3 separate regions of the Homo sapiens genome follow, and all the other regions are linked to region 2. Evidence: fine-mapped expression QTL. A gene starts in region 2. Each other region holds a variant in brackets. All regions are shown on one strand. Distances are between the middles of the regions. Region 1 overlaps MCC (MCC regulator of Wnt signaling pathway). Region 2 holds the start of DCP2 (decapping mRNA 2). Region 3 overlaps MCC (MCC regulator of Wnt signaling pathway).

Region 1 (8,000 bases), 63 kb after region 2:
CACATAACCTTGGAAGTCAGTACTATCATGATTCTCATTTTTAAGGATGAGGAACTTTTTTTTTTTTTTTTTTTTTTTTTTTTTTTTTTTTTTTTTGAGATGGAGTCTCACTCTTTCGCCCGGTCTGAAGTGCAGTGGTGCGATCTTGGGCTCAACACAACCTCCAACCCCTAGGGTTCAAGTGATTCTCCTGCCTCAGCCTCCTGAGTAGCTGGGATTATAGGCACCTGTCACCATGCCCAGCTCATTTTTGTATTTTTAGTAGGGACAGGGTTTCACCATGTTGGCCAGGCCAGTCTTGAATTCCTAATTTCAGGTGATCCACCTGCCTTGGCCTCCGAAAGTACTAGGATTACAGGCGTGAGCCACCGCGCCTGGCCTATAGATGAGGAACTTAAGATTAGTCCCTGCAGAACTGGGACTCCCACCTGGGATTCTGTCTGCAGAGCCTGTGCCCTTACGCATCTCACTGGGTAGTAGCCTGTGATTCACAAAGGGAATACAGTAGAGTGCAAGATAAACAAGACCTCTGCTTAACAGTGCAGCCCTGCAGAACTAAGGCTCAAGTGTCCCCAGATAATGAGGTTCTGCAGGTATGTCGGTGGCTGTGTTTTGCCAGGAGTAGCAGCACAAGGACAACAGCAGTCTAACTTTTTTTTGCCCAGACTTTGCTATGAACATGTTTCTTGTCCAGGAAATCCATCTGGAGTTTTCACAGGCCTTGCCAGTGGCTGCTGGGTGTTCCAGTGCCCTCTACCACTCTGCCTTTATGAGGTCCCAGGCAAGGCCTTCTTCTCTTTGAGCTTTGGGGATGCTGGAGGGATGGCAAAAAAGTAAAATAAATCTCAATTACTCAAGCAACAACCCCTCCATCCCTTGAGTGAGCCTCAGTCTTCACCCTCTGTGCTTCTAGGCACTTGGCTCTGGGGCTCAGCAGTTTATTTGCGTGCTAATGAAGCCACAGGCACACTTTGTATTCCATTAATGTCCTGCAGACCCATGTGCTTTTATGGAATTCTAAGCACAACTTCCATTGCTTGATTGCTTTTATACATCAACCAAATATGAAGAATCAGCAAGTTTAAATAAAACAGCACCTTTTACAATAATGGTCCTCCTCATGAACCAGTGAAGATTCTGCTGCTTATTTGTTCAGTGGGGGCTCCCTTTTAAAAAGCACCCCACCCACTTCCCTTTTCATTTTATCCCACTCTTTGTGTGGCTCAAAAACAGTATTCATCCACAGCTGCTGAAATAGGGGTCAACTAGGGTCATCCTTTTTCCATTCAGGGACAAATGTTGGTTCCTACAAGTCTGGAAGTTTTCTACAGTTGGGTGGATGGTGTATGAACTTGGACATGGATTTGAACTCTGAGGAGTCTCGCTGGCTTTTTCGAAGGCACTGGTAACAGTCAAGGGCTCTGTGGGCCACTGATGGGTAAAGAGTAGTCAGGGCCGGGCACAGTGGCTCATGCCCGTAATCCCAGCACTTTGTGAGGTTGAGGCGGGCGGATCAGTTGAGCCTAGGAATTTGAGATCAGCCTGGGCAACATGGTGAAATCCTGTCTCTACTAAAAATACAAAAATTAGCCAGGCGTGGTGGTGTGCACCTGTAGTCCAAGCTACTTGGGAGGCTTAGGTGGGAGGACTGCTTGAGCCTGGGGAGGTTGAGTCTGCACAGAGCTGTGATTGTGCCACTATACTCCGGCCTGGATGACAGAGTGAGACCCTGTCTCAAAAAAGTACCAGAGAAGACTCAGAGAATAGCGGGAAGATACATGATGGAGGTGACTGAAGGAAGCTTCAAGATGGTAAGCATTCTGATTGGAAAGGATGAGGGAGAATCAGGGATAAAGCAAAGGGTGTGCTCTTGGAAAGATGAATTGTCCAGAGGGGCTGGACTACAGATCAAGCATGGGGAAACATTTGAAATATGGGCTAGGAAGTTAAGTTAGGGACCTACGGACAATCTTGAGTGCCAAGGCACTGAAGGTGCTTATGCAGAGCACCCTAATCCGAAGTGTGTTTTAAGGTATTCTGGCGGCAGAATCAAACTACAGAATGACCCATTAGGACACTACTCTCTGGGTTCTGAGGGTCAGTGCGATGGAAAGGAATGGAAGGGATTTTAAGGAATTATGACCTGCTGACGAGAGGTAGGGAGGGGAGACTTACAAGTTATAATCCTGGATCATTAGGAGAAGGGGATTTTTAACATAAATAGGAATTCATCAAAGGGCAGGAAGAAACAGAATTGTATTGGATGTGCTGTTTTGAGGCTTTAGCATATTTGGGTGGAGATGTCCAGTGGGCATGAGGTTGAGATAATTTAGGGACCATTTAGAAGGAACAGCTGAAGACATGAGAGTTGGAGTCATGTACTTGGCTGAGTAAACCACAATCCCTGGCCCTAAAAGGACTCTCTTTCTGTGTGGGGACTGAGGGTTAAGGAGGGGAGTTGGGGGTAGAACCAGGCATATTAAGAAATGAGCAATGAAATGTTCCATGGGAGAAGGAAATTCATGGCGCTAGGAACCAAAAAAGAAGTGGGAGAGGGTGTCATTTCTGCTGGGAGGTGGAGGATGGGAACATCCGGATCCATTTTACAGATAGCTGTAAGTCACCTGATGTGAATGTTTGGGGAATGGCATTGGGTGGGGCCAGGACAAAAGCAGATGCAAGACTGAAGCCCCAGAGGCGCAGAAGAGGAAGAGCAGTCTCACGGCAGGTGTGATCGATCACACTGACCAGACAAGGCCCTCCTGCCACTGGATATATCCTTACAGGGCTCTGGCACACAACCCTGTCTTCCAGCAGTGGCAGCTTGCCTACTTCTTATTCAGCAGAGAGGGGAAAGGAAGCCCTCTTCTGGTGGATGAGTCAGGGGCATCCTGTCCCTGGACAGAACGGCCACTGTGATTTGTCGATTGCCTTAACGTGGCATTTTACAGAACCATCTGGCAAACACGCAGACACAGATGGCATATTCCAGTTCCCTGGAGGGCTGGGCACAGCCCCTGGATGGTCGGTGACTAAATGACCGCAGCCTCCTGGAGGGCAGGGCGCTGACTCCTGCAGGTAGTATGTGAGGCTCGCCCCACCCTGCTCCTGGGTAGAGTGAAAGGCGAGTGCCTGTGAGGCAGCACCATGCTCTGCTCCTCACCATGGCTCAGGTGATGTATCATGGTGAGGAGCAGCGCACCTACTTCCTGCCTCCCAGCACTGAGGAAGCACAGATCCTTACTTTAAAAAGATATTTTTTACTTATTTATTTTTTAAAGACGAGATCTCGCTATGTTGCCCAGGCTGGATTTGAACTGGCCTCCAGGGATGCTCCTGCCTTGGCCTCCCCAGTAGCTGGAACTCCAGGTGTATGCAACAGCACCTGGCTCACTCAGATCCTTACCTTTTTATCAGCATGACTTAGGCTGACATATGCCATTGCTTCACAGCTCTGTGTGTTTAAGGAAGTCCGCCTCCCGCCATGGCACCTCATTTGCCTTTCGCACTGACAGACTAAGACATGGCTGTTTACTGGAGGCATAGAGGTTTCTCACTGCCCAGACCAGCCACACAGCAGGTAGTCTTCAGATAAACGAGTGGGCTCAGCTCACTCATCGGCAAGCAAGCCCAATGCTGCCAGCACATGTGGGGCACAAGGGGTCCCCATAGAGAATGTAGAAACATGCAGACTTCCCCACTGCCTCACTGTGTGACCTTGAGAGATCACTCAGCCTTGCCGTCCCACTCCGCGCCCCCCCCCCCAACCCACCCCAGGATCACATGGAGAGCAGCACCTGCTCCCGGCTGCCTCCCAAGAATATGACGGAGATGAACTAGTCTGCTCCTCTCAGCTGTGCTTGGGTCCCGAGGGCGGGCTGCACAAACACCATGTGAGTACAAAAAAGGAGTCATTTCTGAAAATTCCCTTATTTAGCTGCCTTTTTATAGATCACTTACTTGGTGGAAAGATCAGTCAAATTTTACTAGGACCAAGGGTGAGAGACAGATCTGAGATGGAGAAGGTTTTTACAGCACACAGGCTGGATGGACAAGAGAGAAAACAAAATACCCTGTTAAGAAAACATCTCGTGTGCCAGACTGGAAACCTGGTCATCCAGATGGGGTTTTATGGCAATACCACAGCCAACAAACTGCAATAAATGTTCACCGAAGTAGGGGGAACGAAATCAGACCAGATGGGAGTTATACATACAGTAAAGGCGGGGTGGCATGTAGCCTTGGTTTTGTTCCAAACAGAAGAAAGTTAGGAGAAGATACACTGAGAGAGCCAGGGCTGAGTGACAAGGGCTGGCCAGGTAAGGGGAGGTTGGGTTGGGGACAGTGTCATGACCCAGAACCAGTGACTGAAATGTCACAGGGCACCTTCCCTGGGATGGCTGGTTCTCCTTAAGGACAGCCCATGGCTTAGCCTCTTCCTCTTCCCTTAGCGACACCTGATCTTTTCAGTCTGGATGCCTGCGCCTACAGTTTTGGTGTCTGGCACCATCCTTTTTTCAAGGGAGAAATA[C/T]TGCTGAAAATGCTGGTAAGATTCCCCCAGCTGACCTCAACCATAAGCTCGGCTGTGATTTAATACCTTCAAAAAAGGTGTTCGTTTCCATTTGATTTTTTAAAATAAAAACCTCAGGAATCATTTCATCAAGGTATATAATACAAACCCAAACTGCAGCCCTGAGGTGTGTATATTGTATCCCCTCATGAAGTGATGACCCCAGTTTCTAAGCTATATTTACAGTATCATTATGTTATTTTCCTTTTTCCTTTACCTCTGTAAGTTTGTTCTTGGCTCCATCCACCTGGGTCTTGATTAGAAATCCATGCTAACCAACTTAAGGCTGGTTATTGGAAATCCATTGTGACTGACAGAACAAATGAAGTCTCTTTATGTTTAGTCAGCACAATCTGCATCTTCCTTGTGCCAGCAAAGGCCTCTGAGGTTTGGGGAATTTGAAAAACTTAAGGGCTTAGCTTACAGATACAATATCCAAATGGCTCCCACTGGAAATAGCGAGTGGGATTTCCATCCCGTGTTTCTGGCACAGTTAAGTCATTAGGATTTGTTGAGGGCATTTTTCTGCGCAGCTTTTCTCTTCCCGCCCCAAGCAGAGCAACTGCCATTTAACTGCACGGCCAGAGGCTCTGGCAAAGTACAAACAGAGCTATTACAACTTGGAAGGAAAGACAAAAAGTGACAATAAATCAGGAAGGTAGTGAAGTTCCCCACAAGGCAACCTTCCATCCACCATCAGCTTGGAGGCCATCCTATAAACAGGCCCGCTGGATCAAGTGAGCTGACTGAAAATACACTGTACCCTTCCCCTCCAACCCTAAATCCCCAGAAATGGCAGGAAAGACATTTTTTAAAACCCCTGAGCATCTTAGAAAGGAGTGCTCTTTGTATATCAGAAATCATGCTCAATCATAAAAAATGAAAGGCAGATGTTTTCTTCTTCCTGAAGAGAAAACCACAATGCAAAATGAATGCAGAAAAATATTCTGCAAAAGGAAGAAGGGGATTCAGAGGTGCTCCAACCAGAGGTGTTGGCTACCAGAACAGGAGGGGACCAAATGCTTGGGTCAGATACGCAGACTAGAGGGCTGTTATTAGCCAGGAGACACAGAAAGCCCAGGAGACAGCTTCTGATATGACCCAGCTGACAGCACTTTGAAGGACCTGGCTACATTTTCTGGGTGGCAGACTGTAATAAGTAGAAGCAGGACTCTCAAATGGGATGGCCGGGTGCAGTGGCTCATGCCTGTAATCAGAGCACACTGTGAGGCCAAGGCGGTTGGATCACATGAGGTCAGGAGTTCAAGACCAGCCTGGCCAACATGGTGAAATCCCATCTCTACTAAAAATACAAAAAATTAGCCAGGTGTGGTGGCGTGTGCCTGTAGTGCCAGCTAACTTGGGAGGCTGAGGCAGGAGAATTGTTTGAACCTGGGAGACCGAGATTGCAGTGAGCCGAGATCGCACCACTGCACTCCAGCCTGGGCGACAGAGCGAGACTCTGTCTCAAAAAACAAAAACAAAACCTCTCGAACAGGTGACCTAGGAATTTAAAATACAAGAATGAACACACAAACAAGAACCGCTGAATATTTAAAGAAAGCAAACACCAAGAAAGAGTCACAAAACTCAACTATGAAAAGAATTACATGTGAAGAAACAGAATTAATACAGCAGACAAAAAAGATGAAGGAATTTAAGGGCCGGGCAGGGCACTGCATGCCTGTAATCCCAACATTTTGGGAGGCCAAGATGGGAAGATCACTTGAGCCCAGGAGTTTGAGACCAGCCTGGGCAACGTAGGGAGACCCTGTCTCAAAAAAAAAAAAAAAAAAAATTAGCCAGGTGTGGGGGCATGCACCTGTGGTCCTAGCTACTTGGGAGGCTGGGGTGGGAGGATCACTTGAGCCCAGGAGATTGAGGCTGCAGTGAGCTGTGATTGTGTCACTGCACTCCAGCCTGGGCAACAGAATGAGACCCTCTCTCAAAAAAAAAAAAAAAAAAAAAAAAATTTAAGCATTATAAAAATCCTCAAAGAGATGCATATCACTAAAAAAGAGATGACAGATTTAATCACCAAAATAACTCAACATATAGGTCAAACATCACAATGAACCTAACTAAAGAATAAATTAGTGAGCTGGAAAATTTAGCCAAAAAATCTGTCTCTCCAGAACTGCAACTATCTGATAGGGCAGCCACAACCATATGTGGCTCTTGAGAACTTGAAATGTCTGAATTTGAGATATGCTGAGGTGTAAAATACATACCAGGTTTTGAAAACTTGGTTAAAAAAAAATTTCATTAATAGTTTGAGAAAATATTGACTATATGTTAAAATAATGTAGACATATTATGTTAAATAAAATGTTATTAAAGGGAATTTCAGCTGTCTTTGTTCTTTTTAATGTGGCTACTAGAAAATTTACAAGTACATATGTGGTTCACATTACATTTCTGCTGGACAATGCTGCTGTAGCACCCGGGGAAAAAGCAGTGATGGAAAGAAGGTATGAAAAGTGGAGATACGGAAGACAGAGCTAGATGAATCAGCATCTGTTTCTCCTTGCAGGAGGAGATAAAGAACTGGGGGGCGGTGAGGGGAAAGAAACACTGAAATAATAGAGGAAAATTTCCCAGAACTAAATAAATACACAAAGCTTTTTCACACTACCAACGCTGAAGGAAAGTATTCCTGCTGAAGTTGGAAACAAGGTAAGAGTGCCTGTTTTCACCTCACTAGTTAACACTGTCCCGGAAGTTTCTAGCCAATGCAACAACATAACAGAAAAGGAAAGGAAGAGGAATTTTCCTATTCACTGATGAATCAATGACTGCCTAAGTGCTGTCTCTTAAGTGCTCTCTCTTCTCACTGTTTTGAAAGGCCTGGCACCAACAGGCCTTCTCCATTTCTGGCTTCCAAGACATGGGTAAAGTGGAACACATCAGCACCTTCTCCTTTTGGGAGCAGCAAAGAGAACTCAGAACAAAGTCTCCATGCCCAGGATAAACACCAGCTGGGGTGGGGAAAGGGTGCTTACCGACGAATGGCGTTGGTGAACTCCGCAGCCAGCTCATTCTCGCTGCACGTTGTCCTGAGTTCGGCTAGGGACAGAGCTGGGGAGGCAGCATCAGCACACTCCTGACAACAGCAAACACATTCCAGTTAGGCCTGAATCCAAGCCGGCAGCACCCTGGAAGCCTGCAGCAGAGCGCGGTAGGTGGCTCGTGCAGTGATGGCAGCAGTGTGGGCACCGGGTGGCGCCCTCAGGTCATGCCAAAGGGGAAAGCCTGGCAGCAAGCCAAAGAGGCCCCTCTGCTCCCAGACCGCTGGCTCCTTTTGCAGACTGGCCAGTGCGGTGGGGATGACACCCAGTATGCTCTGAGCAGCCGCTGATGCCAGGCACTGGTCTAAGCATGCCATATGCATTCAATCATTTAATCTCCACAAATACTCTCTGAGGCAGGA
Region 2 (8,346 bases):
TCATTAATCTTTGTCTATTTCATGTAGTAATAAAGACTAAATGAGGCCAGGCACGGTGGCTCATGCCTGTAATCCCAGTGCTTTGGGAAGTTGAGGAAGGAGGATTGCTTGAGGCCAGGAGTTTAGGACTAACATAGGCAACCTAGTGAGACCCCTGTCTCTACAAAGTTTTTAAAAAAATAATTAGCCAGGCCTGGTGGTGCGCACTTGTATTCCTAGCTACTTGGGAGGGTGAGGTGGGAGACTGAGCCCAGGAGTGAGCTATGCCACTGCACTCCAGCCTGGGCAACAGAGTGGGATCTTGTTCCAAAAAAAAGACTAAATGAAATAGCATATTTTAAAACTATAAAGGTTTTAATCAACCTAATTATTTAAAAATCAAATCAGTATTATAATTTAAGAACCCTAGCATCTCCTGTTCTCCTGTTACCTCAACTCTAAGCTCCCCTTTGTCATTCTCAGCTGGGTCCTGTGAACAATTAGATGGAATTGAGGCCTTGGTGTCCCTATTCACTTTAACAGGGATGGCACTAGGTTCAAGAGGCTGAAGAAGAGACCCAGAGCCAGCAAATGAGGCATATGGTTTATTGAGAGGAACTTGCATACAGAGCGGTCCACTAGAGGTGAGCTGGACATGAGAACAACATCACCTGCAGAAAGCATGCAGTTTATATAGCATTTTCATTTTGCACCCTCTCCCTAACAGCTTCCACCTGACAACTTTCATTTAGCCCAAAACAAAGGGCCTAGCCCTCCTGTGCAGCCTGCATTCCACAGGGCTCAGATGTTCCTCATAGATAAGGAATGAATCTTGGTTGTAACTGCAAACTCATTCAGGTTGTCTGCCACACAGGGTCATTCCCCTGGGTCTGCTTACGTTACTGCTGTCAGGTGCCTCTACCATACAGTTGGCTTCTTTGGAAGTCATGGCTTGGGGGGCTGCTATAAGGGTTGCACTAGTCCAGCTCCTGGAAATCTGTGTGTGAGGAGGCAGTGGAGGGATGGGGCATGGGCAAGATAATATCTTGGACCACAGACATCTCAGAAACTCTTAATAAGGCAGATTGGTTTAACACCATGTGAGAGTTTGGGGACTTCCTGGCCTCTAAGAGCCCAAAAGGGGTTGTATAGCTGCCCCTAAACTGGGAGACTAGAAAGCTAGTAAGAAGAATTCCTCCAGGTGCTTCAGCAAGTGCTTGGTAACCTGCTTGTTTCTATTAATATACCATTGGCCCATGTGGGTGAGCACCACTTTGCCTTGAACTGTTGTTCCACTGCCATCATTTAGAATACTCTAAAAACTAGACTTGAGCTCTAAGTGAGACAACTAAGAAAACCACTATGGTGCCTCCCAGTCAGAGAAAAGACATTCAGTCAGAACAGGTAGAATGCACACCCAGCAAAATAGAACTGAAGGGGCTCACTCTTACCTTTACCAATCCATCCACTACACTGGCTGGAGGTCCAACTGCTAGTATCTGCATTTCTTTGCCGTAGGACTTTTTCTGGCCACCAGAGCCCATCTTGCTGCCCATGTAGCAGGCTAGAGTGCAGACCCCAGGAGCTGCCTTCAACCAATGAAGGAAGTTGGTATATAAATCCCCATCTCCCTCACCCCTTGAGTGGGATAACTCTGAGGTATATGTTTTATACTGGCCACCAGAGTTCTCCAGTGACAGTAAGCTCCAGTTAACCACAGTGCTAATTTCCTTGATAATAAACCTTTTGGCTTTCCTCCCCTCCTTGACTCACTTTCCTGCTCTCCTACCAATGTTTCCCAAGATCACCTCCCTCACAGGCTATCTGCACTCAAAATCTTGTCTCAGTGCCTGCTTCTTAGGAAATCTAAAATAAGACTTGGACTGTGCTGGGAGTACTGAATAAAGCAAATGGAATACTGCAGCCTGTGCTTCTGTACTGGACTCCCAGAATACATGAAGCTGTGCCTGGAAGCATTTTCTCTTTAGGGAATTTCATCAGCAGAAAGAATTACGTACAGATACTGATACCATGTGTTTCCAACCAACAGCTCAGCCAGATCATCCTACAGTGAAGCTCTCAGGAAACAAGTACCATCTACAAGGTGAGAGCTTCCAATTAGCTTTCAAGGCACTTGACTCCAGGTTAAGGCCTTACTCTTAAGTGTGAGTGAATAGTCAAGGACTACAGAGGCTTCTAATAGGATAGATGAGATCAAGATAATAGCAAAAAGCAGCTGAGAGGAATAAGACTACTCAGGGAGAAGAAAACGTCAAAATCTATTATTAATATCCTCAGAAGGATAAAATAAAATATACAAAGCAAGAATGTGACACCACAAGAAAGGGGCATTTGAAGAACAAAACAGAACTCTAAATAAGTAAAAACTCTGTAGTTGTCAGGAAGATAAATTTGAGGAATTCTCCAAGAAAGAGGGGAAAAAAAAGATGGAAAACGGGAGCAAAATAGATGGTGACGGGCCTCTTATGCCAAAGGAACTTGGGCTTGATCATACAGCAGAAACTGAAAAGATAACTTGTTCCTATCTGAGTAAAACAAAACAAAATGTAGGCAGTTGCACAGGCCAAGAATGGAGGCAGAGTCAGTGGTTAGGCAGCTCTCACTGTAGTATGGAGAAATGATGCAAAACTGAAGTACACAGTGGCATGTGACAAATTTAGACAAAAGATGGGAGATTAAATGGTAGAACAGACTAAACTTGTGACGGAGCAGGTGTGTGTGGGCCTGTGGGTCTGATGTAAGAGGAAAAAGAACAGATGGATCTAGTTTCTCCAAAGATCCCAAATGGATTGGTCTCCATTAAGCAAGACGAGGAATGAATAAGGACGAGCAGGTGGGGATTGCTTTGTGCAGAGGGTGGAATACAGATCAGAGTTCAGCTTAAATCAGTATTTTCTAAGATTTTGCTAGGTGCCAGATACTGAGATAAAGTCCTTGTCTTCATGTTTGGAACCAGGTGCCTAAGGAAGCACAGAGGAGAGCCACCTCCAAAATGGATACCCTCTCCAAGGGTTTGTAGTGAAAGAGGCACAGCTCTTGGCCTGGAGTTGGTGGGGGCTGCGATAAGTGCAAGATACTTGGTGACAGGAATCGCGAGCATACTCTTGTGTTGTACGGATTCTCAGGGTCGGCCCTGCAGAGGAAAGAGCTCAGTCACCGCGAGGTCCTGCACAACATGCCAAAGTCCCGGATATGTGTCCGGGGTCTACACCTAAGCCCCGACCCCTCTGAACTTCCCAGAAGCGCGCAGGAGGCATGGTGCGCATGCGTGTAGCCACCTCAAAGGCGGCGGGAAGTTGGTTTTCTGAGTAGCAACTGAGCAGCTTGAAGACGGATTGGAAGTAGCAGACCAATAAACAAACGTCTCATTGGCTTAGAGTGCTTAGAGTCCCAATTCTTCAGCTTCCCATTGGGCCTTTCAAGCGAGCAGGGGCGTGACTCCGGGGGCTCCGCCCCGAGCCTTGGCCCAGTCTTGGGGTCCAAGGCTGAGGGAGCGGGACGGAAGTGAGCGGGTCCCGCCCCTTCCCCTTCTCGTCTCCGTTGGAGTCGTCTCTGCCGCGGCTTCCTCGGCTGCCAGCTCTCCGGCGAGCCGGAGTCCTAGTGCCGTACCGTCAGTCCCCGGCCGCGCGGAGCCGGGATGCACTGTTCCTGCTGTGGGTCCTCATCATGGAGACCAAACGGGTGGAGATTCCCGGCAGCGTCCTGGACGATCTCTGCAGGTACCGCGCTACCCGACCCCCTTTCGCCCCCGTCGGGTTTTCTCAGTTTCGCGGACCCCCAGAGGCCTCTGGGTCTTCTTCCCCGCCCACGTCCATGTCCTCGCTTTCCGCTCCCGCCGCTGCTCGCTTTCCATCGTCGACCCTGCTCTCCGACGACACCGCCCCTCTTTCCGCCGCAGCCTCCCTGTTTCTCAAGGCCCTCCGTCCTTCCCCGCAGAACACCCGGAATTTCCTCATTTTTTAAGTTACTCAACTATTTTGCTTTCCCGCAGGCGTAGCCGCTTCGCCGGAGCCTGGGTCTTAGCGTTTTGCCGCCGCCGCCGCCTCCCTCTCCCATTGTTTTTTCTGCCTCTGTGACTTTTCCACGCCGTGCACCCCCTCCTCCCTGTGTCTCATTCCCCGATTCTGAAGGAAGACCCCCAGGGTAGTAATTTAAGGCTTAGGATCCCAGGTACGCGGACCTGCGCAAGGAGCAAATTTTCGGACTTATTCTGACGCCTGCGTGTTATTTGTCCGTGGCGTTCTCTGTAAATTCCTGTAAGGAATTACTTTTTTTTTCTCATCCCTGGACTTGTCTTTGGGGGAGAGAGGGAAAAAGTGTAGCGCTGCTTTTCTTTTTATCCTTAATAATCCTATTTTAAAGGAAATTCTCAACCGCGGGGTTTTAACTCAGGGTGTATACTTCAGATGAGAAATTTTCTGCATTCTTCCCCCTTGTCAACTCTGATTTCAGATAGCCAAACACGTGTAGGATACTTAAAAATGCTTATTTTCCGAAGGTAAAATTTGGAGTGCAGTGATACCCGGAGTTGTCGCCAAGTGTGTGTGGATTGTGATTACAAGTGATAACACCTTTTCGTTCACAGTTACTGTGTTTATGTTTTAAAAGGCAGGCTTTTAGTAGTTGTATCTCCTTCATGCAGTTTTTTTTAATGGAAAGTAAAGAACTGGTGTTTGTGGAGTTTTTTGGGGTTTTTTTTGTTTGTTTGTTTTTTTGTTTTTATTTTTTGAGACGGAGCCTCTTTCTTTTGCCCAGGCTGGTGTGCAGTGGTGCGGTCTTGGCTCACTGCAACCTCTGCCTTCCGGATTCAAACGAGTCTCTGCCTCAGCCTCCCTAGCAGCTGGGATTACAGGCACCCGCCACCACACCCGGCTAATTTTTGTATTTTTAGTAGAGACGGGATTTCACCATCTTGGCCGTGCTGGTCTCGAACTTCTGACCTCGTGATCCACCCGCCTCGGCCTCCCAAAGTGCTGGGATTACAGGCGTGAGCCATCGCGCCCGGCCTGGAGTTTCTACTGTGCACCAGGCACTACCTTTACATGTATTGTTTTATTTAATCCTCAGTCAGCCGTGTTTGGTAGGTGCAGTTAGTATATTTCCATTTTCATCTGCGCAAACAGATTCAGGAACTTTGTAATTTACATAAGGTCACATTCATCCTAATTCACAAAATCAAGATTTCACACCTATTCCTTTTTCTTTCCAGTGCCTGTGCTTTTTCTCTCATACCAAGGAGAAGTAATAAGCCTAACGTTTTAAACCTCACAAAAGTACATACAGAAAAGTAAATAGCCTAATTTTGCAACTAATACAAATGGCGCTGTACTTCTTTGGTGATGGTAGATTTATAATTTTTGAAGTATGGTAGATTCAAATGAACCACTGAAAAGGCATTTAGTTTCTTGTCCCAAATAAAAAAAAAAAAAGGAAAAAGAAACTGAATTTGATATGTGTATGTGGGTTAATGACTAGACGCACATCAACCAATAGTGGGATTATGAGATTGTGATCTTTATTTTTTGTTTCCAATATTTTTTATGCATTTTATAGTTAGAAAAAAATTGAAGATAAGTATTTAGAAAGGTGATCAGTAATTAGCTGTGTGTTAATAGGGTTAAGAGTTGATTTAGAAAAAGATGTGGTAATCTTAAACATTTTACAGACATCAGAGCTAGTCTTCCTTCTAGTATTGGGGTTAATTTGCATATTATCTAGGATTACATCATTTAAATAAGTGATGTCAGCTGTTAACGATTTTATGTATGGAACCTATTCACAAAATAATTACGTTGTATTTTGTAAACAATATGTTAAGCACCTGTCAAGTGTTAAAGATAGTTGGTTTTCCAGTGAGTGTATTTAAGCTGTTAAACAAATATTTTTGAATGGAGTAACATTTTTTTCCTTTCAAGAAATTTCTTTTTGCAGTTACTGTTTTTGGCTGTATAAATAAGGATATGATATATTTAAAAATTAGGGCTGGCTGTAATAATGAAACCAAATAAACATTTCTCAAAACTTCAGATTTTAAAATAAATGCCATTTTCAAGTTAATATTTATAGCTTTGATTAATTGAAATATTTTTAATGTTACAGATTCAAGCTTTTCATTGTAGACTAAAACTTTTTTTTTACACTTAGAATTTGGTAAACTTCTGTAAAAATAAAGCTTAATTTGAGGTTAATTTTTCTGAACTTCTTTGCTCTCTTTTATGTACGTCTTGATTTATGAATTCAAGCTAGGTGCTTGTTTTTACTCCCTTCATTTTTTGCCCCAATTCTGTTGCTTATTATTAGTGTATATAGGAAGTTTTCTTTTGTGTTACTTTGTTTTTTGATAAATTACATGTTTCTGTTAAATCTTGCCTTTTGATGTGGAGAGCAGCAGACTTAAATTTTCAAAATGTGACTTTGTAACCTTTAGACTGCTCATAACCTAAGGCTGATGCTTTAGTATGTAACATTCTATTTATTGGAATATTGTGCAGCCATTCTAAGTTCCTCAGGCAATTAGCACACAGTAAACTGAGGGAAAATATTTGTGTGTTGAAAAGATGTACACAGTATACTGAGTGAAATACTTATTTAGTCCCTTGGTGCCTTTTGTGAAAACAAATTTTTAAGTGTGTGTGTGGGTGGGGAAGGGGTATATGTATTCGTATGCCGAAAGAATATGCGCCAAACTGATAACACTGGTTACTTTCTGAGTGGAGTAGAATTAGAGGAGAGGAAGGGAAGAGTTTGGTCTTAAAATATTCTAGTGAACAAAAAATGCTTTATAATTTAAAATGTATGTGTAAAGGTGAATCTGCAGCATTTTATGGTGATACTTGTTTTTGATGAACCATGATTTTTGATATTAAAACTCAAATACAGAGTTTTTCAGTACTGTTTAAACTAGCTTATTAAAGAATTGAAAAGCAAGTTTTTAAAGTAGAAACTGAAAAGTTGGTTGATTCAAATAAATGCTTAGAATTTTTTTAAAGCCCTTTTTAAGAGTTGGGTATAGTAAGGCCACACTAGTGTTAAAAGAAGAAAGGTATTTTCTGGCAACTAGTGTTGCTGCTATTTTGGTGATAGCGTAGGTTAATTAAATAATTTGTGCTCATCTTCAGCTAGCCGTGTTAGTGTTGAATTCAACCGGAACATTTTTCTACTAATTGCAATCCTTGTGCTAATGTCCTGTTTGTAGGAACACTGAGAAAATAACATTTCGTGTGATGCAGTTTTTTCCGTAACAAATTGTAATGGAAAGCATTTTATTTCAGCTATTACTATATACACGTCCATACACATATGTACACGTACTTTTGAACTTTAAAACAGATCAAAAGCATTCACAGAATGAACGCATTAAATGTTTAATTTTCGTACATCAGCTCTTATAAACTTAAGTCAACTTTTTACTATTAAAAATATGTAATCATGTACATGGTTTTGAAAATTAGAGTACAGACAGATTTATAAATGACAGGCAACAGTCTTAGTTTCTTTCCCTACCCTTTTCTATTCCTGTTGAGGCATTGACTTTTACTTGTTTTGTTTTGAGTTCTTCTGGTGGATACCTCATATTTTAAAATATACTTGTGCCAGTTTCTTGTTTTATCAACTTTCTATATTGAATTGAGGATTTGGTTCAATTTCGTAGATACTAGATGAGAGTTCAGTTTACCACACCCACTATTGCCCCCATCTTACTTCCAGTATGTCTCTATCAGTATTTTAAATTGTTCCATTGTTTACCTTTGTGACTTTATGATTTTTTTTTTAGAGACAGGGTCTTGCACCATTGCCCAGGCATGATCATAGCTCACTGCAACTTCCAACTCCTGGACTCAAGCTATCCACTTGGCTCAGCCTCCTGAGTAGCTAGGACTATAGGCATGTACCACCATGCCCAGGTATTAAATACATTTTTTTTTGGTAGAGATGGGATCTTTGCCCAGCCTGGTCTCAAACGTACTTGTAGCCTCAAGCAATCCTCCTGCCTCAACCTCCCAAAGTGTTGAGATTACAGGTGTGAACTACCATGCTGGCCCCTTTGTGACTTTAATATACTTAAAATTATATTTGTTTTACGAACTTACAGTATTTCTTGAGTCTCTGATATGGTGAGATGATTAGTGCCTCATTTTTTCTTGCCCATTCCCTCGGCTTCTATCCAGATTAACTTGAAAAAAATTAGGGTTGATAATATTTATATTCTATTTTGTAAATCTACGTCTGTTATATTTTGTGCTATTTGTTGATTGTAAAAGCTGAACAATAATGATACAGTGTAAATAGATATGTAGTTTTTACAGTAGAGGCAAGTCTTCAGCGGCTAGTTTCTTTTCCATCGGG
Region 3 (8,000 bases), 53 kb after region 2:
GGGAACTTTGGATGGATTCTCTGGTGCTACAGAAAAAAACAGTAAATGGTCCTTCAAGTGTATCAGTGTAGAACTGAGAGAGAAGAGGTAAAACTGAAAAAGAATAATGAATTTGTTTTAAGATTGAAGACCTTCCTGAAATAATTCAGTTACTTTGGTACTGCCTAGCCCTGTAAGCATTTTGCTTGAAATTTAACCTTTTAAGCACCATATGCTAACCATCACCATGTATCTGGGGGCAAAAAAGAAGCCTTAACTACCATTCCCTCACTCTGTCCCCGTCATGACAACAGGAGCTAAGTCTTGAACTGGGGGTTACACAGCACTCTTAAGTAGGCGTGATAAGTTTTGCAAAATGTTCAGTATCTCCTCAGTGTCTTGTCCTTAGGTAGAGACAGGTCCAGAGCTACAAATGCACCCATGTGGAAGAGATTTGATTCAGCAGAACAGCAATTATGTAGTGCCCTGGGGCGGGAAGTGCTAATAATGTTTCTCAGCTCTTGAAGAAACCCCTGACAGAATTTTAGTTCCACTACAGGTATCAAAAAGATTCCCAGCTCTAAGTCTTGGATATTAATAAGGCTCCACTGAGAGGGAGAAATCCCAGAATCAAGAGAGCGCTCCCTTCCCAGCCCTGCCTCCAAAATGAAGATTGAAGGAAGTTTTTATTCTCTCAATACAAAATTGTTCAGGCACAGTCCTGGTGGTGGTCTGTTTGTAACTTTAGTGTATCTGGGACTGTAAGTAACACCTGTCTACGCTCTTCCCATGACCTATAACTCCCAGAGATCACCTCTTATGGCCGCCTCTATCTTAAAGTTGAGACCCGGGACTTGGAAACCAAAGCCTTGCTGTAGTAAACAAATCAGCAGTCCTTTTAAATGCTGGAGGCACACACAGGTCTGTTTTCCCATGAAGCAGGAGGAAAGAGGAGAAACGAGATTCTAGAAGATGAGCCCAGCATCTACCAAAAAGAGGATACAATGGAAAATCTTACAGAAACAAATGTCTGGGATCCCACTGATGCACAGCCGCCAGACCAGAAGAGGAGGGGGAGAGTGAGTGCTGAAAGCAGAAACGAGGCTCTGCTGAGCAGGCACAGAACATGTGTTTACACGCTGTTGTGGGCCCAGGAGGGAAGAGCGGGCACCTCTGGATACAGTCCACAATGTCACCATGGCCAGTCGCCCCAAGGGTTGAGTTGGGGCACTCCATTGTCCAAGTGCCGACCTACCTGCCAGCCTTCCCTTTCCTCCTCCTCCCAACAAGTACATGGGCCCTTCTGTCCCCAGTGGCCTGCTGCAGTTTACTTCCCATGGGCAGAACTCCGGTGCGTGAGTGCTGATTAAAGCGAAGTTTCATTGGTGTGTGGCCTGGAGTTCTCCTCCTCTAGCAGAGCTATTCTTTGCTTGAGCATCCTCACTTGGGTCTCATGTCTCTCCACCATGGCCATCATCTGCGACTCTAACTTCTTCAGTTTGTTTTGATGCTTTTTCTTTGCTTTCTCATAGGCAGCCACCAGGTTGCTAGGTGGGAATGAAGGGAAATTGGTATTAAGATTCATCCTAAGTAGCATCGTGACACCATCCTGTCCACTGGATAACCAGATCTAGTGAGCACTGCTCTGAAGAAAGATCACTCATCCTCTTCGGTAAGAATCTGAAATCTAGTGGTCAGAGGAGGGACAGCACCAGGATGTCAACACTCAACGGCCAGTCACCTACTGGCTTAACCCTGATGAATCCAGCCGGATTGCTAGAGGCTGGTCACTCTCACATATTAGAAGGGGTTCTAAGAGTCAAACCAGCAATCCAAATTGGCCCAGTCCAAAACGGATAAATACAAATAGTGGGTCTATTTGTTGCTCCATGGTTGCTTGCAACATAGTCAAGTGTATCTTACAGGAGAGTACTCCTAAGGCACTGCAATCAAAGTGACCATACCTGGGACGAGAGCAGAGAGGTTGTTCTTGTTCCACCTTCCCTTTATGCTTTGGGCTGGTGGGACTCGGAATATTAAATTAGGCCATAAGCCAATGCTGCAAAGCCAAACATGGAATATACAGGCCTTTGAACTGTTCCCACCAGAGCCTGGTGGTAGGGTATACAGTGAGCCCAGGTAGGTCCATTCCATGTACAGTCATTACCCTTACAGCTGCAGTTCTCCCAGATAGTCTGAGGACTCACCCCAGAGATTTGTAAAACCCATTCAGGAGGTCTGTGAGGTCTTGAGCTTTTATTTCCAACTATAGAGCTGGATGATGCCAGGTGTTCTCAATATACATCCACATAATGTTGACTACAGAAGCAAATGTGAGAACCTAGCTGTCTTCTATTAAGCCAGACATTAAAGATTTGCAGAATTGTAAGACCAGTGCCACTTTTCTAATTATTTCTTGGAAAATAGTTTTTCATAAAAATGCCATTTTTTTTTTTGTAAATGAAATAATAAAAACTTTAAATAATTTATCTTGGTTTTAGTTCTAACATGAGAAGTATCAATAAATACAACTTACAGGAACAAAAGCTCTCTGAGGTCCTCCGTTTTTTATAGAGAAGAGTCCTGAGCCCAGTCTTAGAGCAGTATTTCCTGAAGTATTCCAGTGGATATTGTGTTGCTCAAATAAATTCCATGGCTAATTTTGTTTGGAAAATACTGGCTTAAACAGATTTTTTATTATATGACTTCTCAGAACATTTAAGATACATAATACCAGGAGGCATATACCACAGTATGCTACATTTGGCCAAAGGATGTTGTTACTGAGCATTTCTTAGTTTCCACAGACCATCTTGGGAGATGCCACTCTAAGGAAGACCAGGCTCTTAGAGAGCCAGGTAGGGACTCACCCACTTTCTAGAGTTAGTTCTTAAGAGTTAGGGAAATGTCCATCCCTGGTGCTGTGTCTACATGCAGGGTGTCAGTCCAAGTACCACAGGTGGAGGGCGGTGGGGGCTGGGTATAGGGAGATTTTTACCTGTTGGCCCGCTTTAGATCATTCACGAACTCTGCAGATTGCTGATGTCGGATTTCACTGCTCTTGGTGAGTCTCTCCAAGGCACTCACCAGCTCTTGAACTCTGGCCTTCAACTTCTTTTCTCTATATTAAAGGAGACAAAATATGCCAGGAGTAGTTTGAGATGATGCTGGAGGTGCCCACTCCCTGGGAAGTGGTGACAGAAAGAGGAAGGTTTAGCTTGCAAAGCCTAAAGGCAAGGGAGAGAAAAGATACTAAAGGGCCCAACAGCGCTACTGTCACCTGAATGAATTCATTCTCAAATGCAGATTTAAACCCATTTCTTCAATGACAAGGGCTTTTTAAAGATCTTATGTGTCAAAGAAAACAAGACAGGAATTTCTGTTTCTAGTCTTCTAGCTAATCTAGAAGTTCCTTTCTACTATTGGCATACCAGATCCTCAGCAATGAGTGCGGCCTGACCACAAACCCCCGTCTGTCTCCATCCCCTTCTTTTTCAGGTGTCCTAAGTATCTCCTGAACCACTCAGGTTTAGCAACCTACCTTGAACAGGTCCCCACTCATTGAGACCAACATGATCCCACCTTGCCAAAAACCAAAAAATTGGTAGAGGGAGTAGATATGATACTCTCTTCATTGTAAGGGTCCTTATTTCCCATGAAATTACATTTGCACTTTTGACTACGTGCCCTCCACAGGCAAAGCAGCTTCAAGTTCTGTGGATCCTCTACTACTTTGGTAACCCAAGCTAATTAGAGTCAGTTCAGGGAGGTTTCCAGTATCCAGTCAGCTCATTGCCTTCCTCTAATTCCCACAAGACCCAGCAGGGAAACACTAATCAAAGCCTTCTCGACTACTCTGACTCCCTTCCAAGATCCTTCTATCACATGCACAGTGTTACTCCACTTAGTAGCACACTCAGCACTATGTCACCGTATTACGTGCTGGAGCCATGACGCTCCCCCATGGTCATGTTGGGTTCTAGAGTGGCAAGGACTTTACTTGGTTTGATTCCCCAATGCACCCCCAGTGCTGAGCACCGTGCCTGGGTGACAGCTTCTAGTGACTGTTAAAACAGCTTTAGAACAACTTACTGAAGGTAATGTATTTGATTCTTTGGGCATATTAAGAAACCAGGATTTAGGGAAGGAATTCGTTTAAAAAGGACTCACTGTATGTAGAATGTAAATTTGCATGATTAATTTATAAGACAGTTGGGTAGGATCTAGCAAAATAATAAATGAACATGCCCCTTGACTAAGCAACTTCACTTCTAGGAATTGATTTTACAGAGATATCAGGAGCACAGGTTCCTAAAGATACATCACTTATATTTGGATTCACTTAGGCATTGGTTACAATAATGCCTAATAAAGGGAGACAAGCAGGGAACTGGTTAATCACGGCCTACCCATGCTACCGAAATGCTCTGCTTGAAAAATATTTTTAAAATGCAGATGGAGGGCTGGGGGCAGTGACTCATGCCTGTAATCTCAGCACTTTAGGAGGCCAAGGAATGTGGATTACTTGAGCTCAGAAATTGAAGACCAGCCTGGGCAACATGGTGAAACCCCATCTCTACAAAAAAATATAAAACTTAGCCAGATATGGTGGGTCATGCCTGTAGTCCATGCTACTCAGGAGGCTAAGTTGGGAGGATCGCTTGAGTCCAGGAGGTCAAGACCAGTGAGCCATGATCCTGCCACTGCACTCCAGCTTGGGTGACGGAGTGAGACCATCTCAAAACAAACAAAAAAATCAGATGGCCATGCACTGGCATGGGAGGATATCTGATACATTAAGCAAAAAGGGTGAGTTCTAAAGATGCCATTTTTGTAAAAACTGAAAAGCTGAGTGTGAATATCTGACACTGTAATAAGACTAGAAGGTGAAACACAAACTCAACAGTGCTTAACTC[C/A]TGAAGGGGGTTGATGGGAGGCTTTCATTTTCTACTTCACTCACTTTTGCATTGCCAGATATTTTTACAATTTTGTATATTTTCTGTAAAGTGCGAGTTAGAGTCATGTAGGAACGGCATGGGAATGTGACGTCGGGGTAGAAGGCTCCTTTCTGCTGCCCAAACTGTTCAGACCCTGGTTCTCCTTTCCTAGCTTTTCATATATCTAATCTTTTACATTTCTGCCTTTAGCTACTATGAGGGTAAGTCAAGCTCTCCAAACTGATCAATGAAGAAAGGAATTACAACGTAAAATCCAGGCCTGCTTTTGGGAGAGAGGATGGAAGGGGCAGGATCTTTAAGGGAAGTCTAGCAACCAGCCCTCAGCCCAGAACTCATTTTTCAGTAAATCCTCCTACCCGCCTCTGCTAAGCTGGAAGGAGCGTGTGTTTTTCCTGGGCCCTAGCAGCCTCCAGGACATCTCGGATCTGGCTGCATTTCCTCCCGGCATTGGAGAGTGGCAGCATTTCCTACCAGCAGTGAGGATGGTGTTGCAGGAGGGGGGCTCCTTTCCTCCCCACCCGCCCCCCAACACCTCCTCGGCCTTCCCAGCAGTCCTCCTCCAGCGGAGGGAAGCCAGGGACTCCTGCTTCCCTCCAGCTAAAAACAGCAGGGAAGGGTTTTTTGCCCTACATTTTATTACCATTTAGAGCCCTTTATCTTTCATTCTAATGTTGATTAATAGTGTAAAAGGAAAAAAAATACTGAAGAGTTAAAAATGTAACCACAAACTCAATAAGAAATTCACAACAAAAAACTCTGGGATGCTACCTAGAGCAGTCAAATCCCCTCCCTCCCCCACTCCTATCCACACTCAGTGAACAGGGAGACTGGAAATCCCAGCCCTTCCACAAGACAAAACGCTTCCTTCCCCAGCACCCAGGCCCTCAGGGGACCAGAGGGAACTTTCTGGATCTGGCAGGCTCCAAAGGAGGATAGAACCCCAGAAGGGCAGGAGAGAGTCTCTCAGACCCAGGCCAACCCCAGCTTAGGGTTGTGGCGCAGGAGTGGGGAGTAGCCATTGCTGGGAGCTTAGAACTGCCTGGCCTTCAGAAGGGAATGGGAGTGAACCGCTGGGAGAAACCCCAGGAAAGAACTATGATGCTCATTTATTTAAAGATGCAAAGACGAGGCCAAACTGTAAACTTAAACCTAAAATTTGGGTTGGTTGATCTGTTTTCATGACAACACAAAAAAATGTAAAATATCTATTTAGTTTAAAAAATACTGATTACAGGGGCCGGGCGCTGTGGCTCACGCCTGTAATCCCAGCACTTTGGTAGGCCGGGGCTGGCGGATCACCTGATGTCGGGAGTTCAAGACCAGCCTGACCAACATGGAGAAACCCTGTCTCTACTAAATACAAAATTAGCTGGGTGTGGTGGCGCTTGCCTGTAATCTCAGCTACTTGGGAGCCTGAGGCAGGAGAATCGCTTGAACCTGGGAGGTGGAGGTTGCAGTAAGCCGAGATCGCGCCACTGCGCTCCAACCTGGGAAACAAGAATGAAACTCTGTATCAAAAAAAAAAAAAAAAAAAAAAGGATACTGATTACATGTTGAGATATTTTGGACATACTGGGTTACATTGTTATTAAAATTAATTTCATGTGTGTCTCTACTTTTTTCATGGGACTACTAGAAAATTTAAAATTACATACATGCCTTGCATTTGTGGATCATATTATATCACCAGTGGACAGTGCTGCTCTAGACCAATTGTTTAATGCTGTCAGAGGCATGTGAACCAGAGCAACTCCATCTTAAATAGGAGTTAGGTAAAAGTGAGGCTAAGACCTACTGGGCTGCATTCCCAGATGGTTAAGGCATTCTAAGTCACAGGATGAGATAGGAGGTCAGCACAAAATACAGGTCATAAAGACCTTGCTGATAAAACATTGCAGTAAAGAAGCCAGCCAAAACAGCAAACCCAAGACGGCCACAAGAATGACCTCTAATCGTCCTCACTGCTACACTCTCACCAGCGCCACAACAGTTTACAAATGCCATGGCAACATCAGGAAGTTACCCTATAACGTCTAAAAAGGGGAGGTATGAATAATCCACCCTTTGTTTAGCATATTATCAAGAAGTAACCATAAAAATGGGCAACCAGCAGCCCCCAAGGCTGCTCTATGGAGTAGCCATTCTTTTCCTTTACTTTCCTAATAAACTTGCTTTCATTTTACTCTGTGGGCTTGCCCTGAATTCTTTCTTGCACAAGATCCAAGAACCCTCTCTTGGGGTCTGGATCGGTAATATTTTCCAGTAACAGCATTACCAGATATTTTCCCTGGCTTCTGACTAAGTAGGTTTCGGTTGAGACCCAGGAATTGCAGTTTAACAAGGGCCCCAGCTGACTCTTGTCATCAGGCAAGCTTGAGGGACTGGCGTAAGGCAGAAGAGTTCCTCACCTGGACCTGAGGATGAGCTTCAGTTACTCCTGGAACTGACTTTCTGAATTTATATGCAAAATTGCAAGCACGGGGCTCACTTTATCAAGTCTACAGTTTTCCTCAGATTTTCAAACGATGACATGGAAAATGCAAAGAAACATAGCTTACTAATTCAAGTCACATTGAAACCTCAACCATTCTTGTTCCTTTCTCCTTCTAATTTAAATTTGCTTAGCCTTTCGTTAAGATTTTATATGGTTTGGGTACATAAGTTAGGCCAAAACAAGCTTTCTTGGCTTCACACAAATGAGAAAGCAAAAATTCAACACTACACGTTCCATATGCACCTTCAATAGTAATGTATTCATACAGTGTTTCCTGGAATGGCCAGAAATACATAATCCATTCCTTTTTTATGCCCAGTAGTATTGGCACTCACAAATATACCCCATAGCATCAAGCAAAAACAATGCTGGATTGTAATGACTGTGACAACTGAAGTCCCCCAGTACACACATGGATTTCAGTTCCACGTCTTCCCACTTCAGCTTTTGGGCTTCTTATTCCTGGTGATAAAAGGTCGTATGACTCTAACCGCAGAGCCAGGGTGGGACTTTTAAGAGACAGGGTCTTGATCTGTCATCCAGGCTGGAGTACAGTGGCACAAATCACA

What was found. PIP is the estimated chance that this variant, and not a neighbour inherited with it, causes the effect.
Region 1: its variant is fine-mapped to the expression of DCP2 in whole blood (INTERVAL, PIP above 0.99).
Region 3: its variant is fine-mapped to the expression of DCP2 in whole blood (TOPMed, PIP above 0.99). The same link has a PIP of 0.9 or more in Th17 cells and blood mononuclear cells.

The regions. Positions count from the first base shown.
Region 1 is chr5:113,035,958-113,043,957 of GRCh38, forward strand. It overlaps MCC (MCC regulator of Wnt signaling pathway), which reads right to left. Exons shown (of 19, transcript NM_001085377.2): 17 at 7,573-7,673. Among named protein-coding and RNA genes, the nearest start is that of DCP2, 63 kb to the left of the region's middle. RefSeq lists an enhancer at 7,749-8,000. The variant C/T (reference allele first, on the strand shown) is at 4,532.
Region 2 is chr5:112,973,268-112,981,613 of GRCh38, forward strand. DCP2 (decapping mRNA 2) reads left to right here and starts at 3,531. Exons shown (of 11, transcript NM_152624.6): 1 at 3,531-3,719. The coding sequence starts at 3,667. LOC105379126 (a long non-coding RNA gene) reads right to left here and starts at 1,518. Exons shown (of 2, transcript XR_948679.3): 1 at 1,431-1,518. RefSeq lists enhancers at 3,022-3,071, 3,102-3,181, 3,197-3,956, 3,492-3,541, 3,612-3,701 and 3 more.
Region 3 is chr5:113,025,957-113,033,956 of GRCh38, forward strand. It overlaps MCC (MCC regulator of Wnt signaling pathway), which reads right to left. Exons shown (of 19, transcript NM_001085377.2): 18 at 2,978-3,100; 19 at 1-1,526. The coding sequence ends at 1,346. Among named protein-coding and RNA genes, the nearest start is that of DCP2, 53 kb to the left of the region's middle. The variant C/A (reference allele first, on the strand shown) is at 4,896.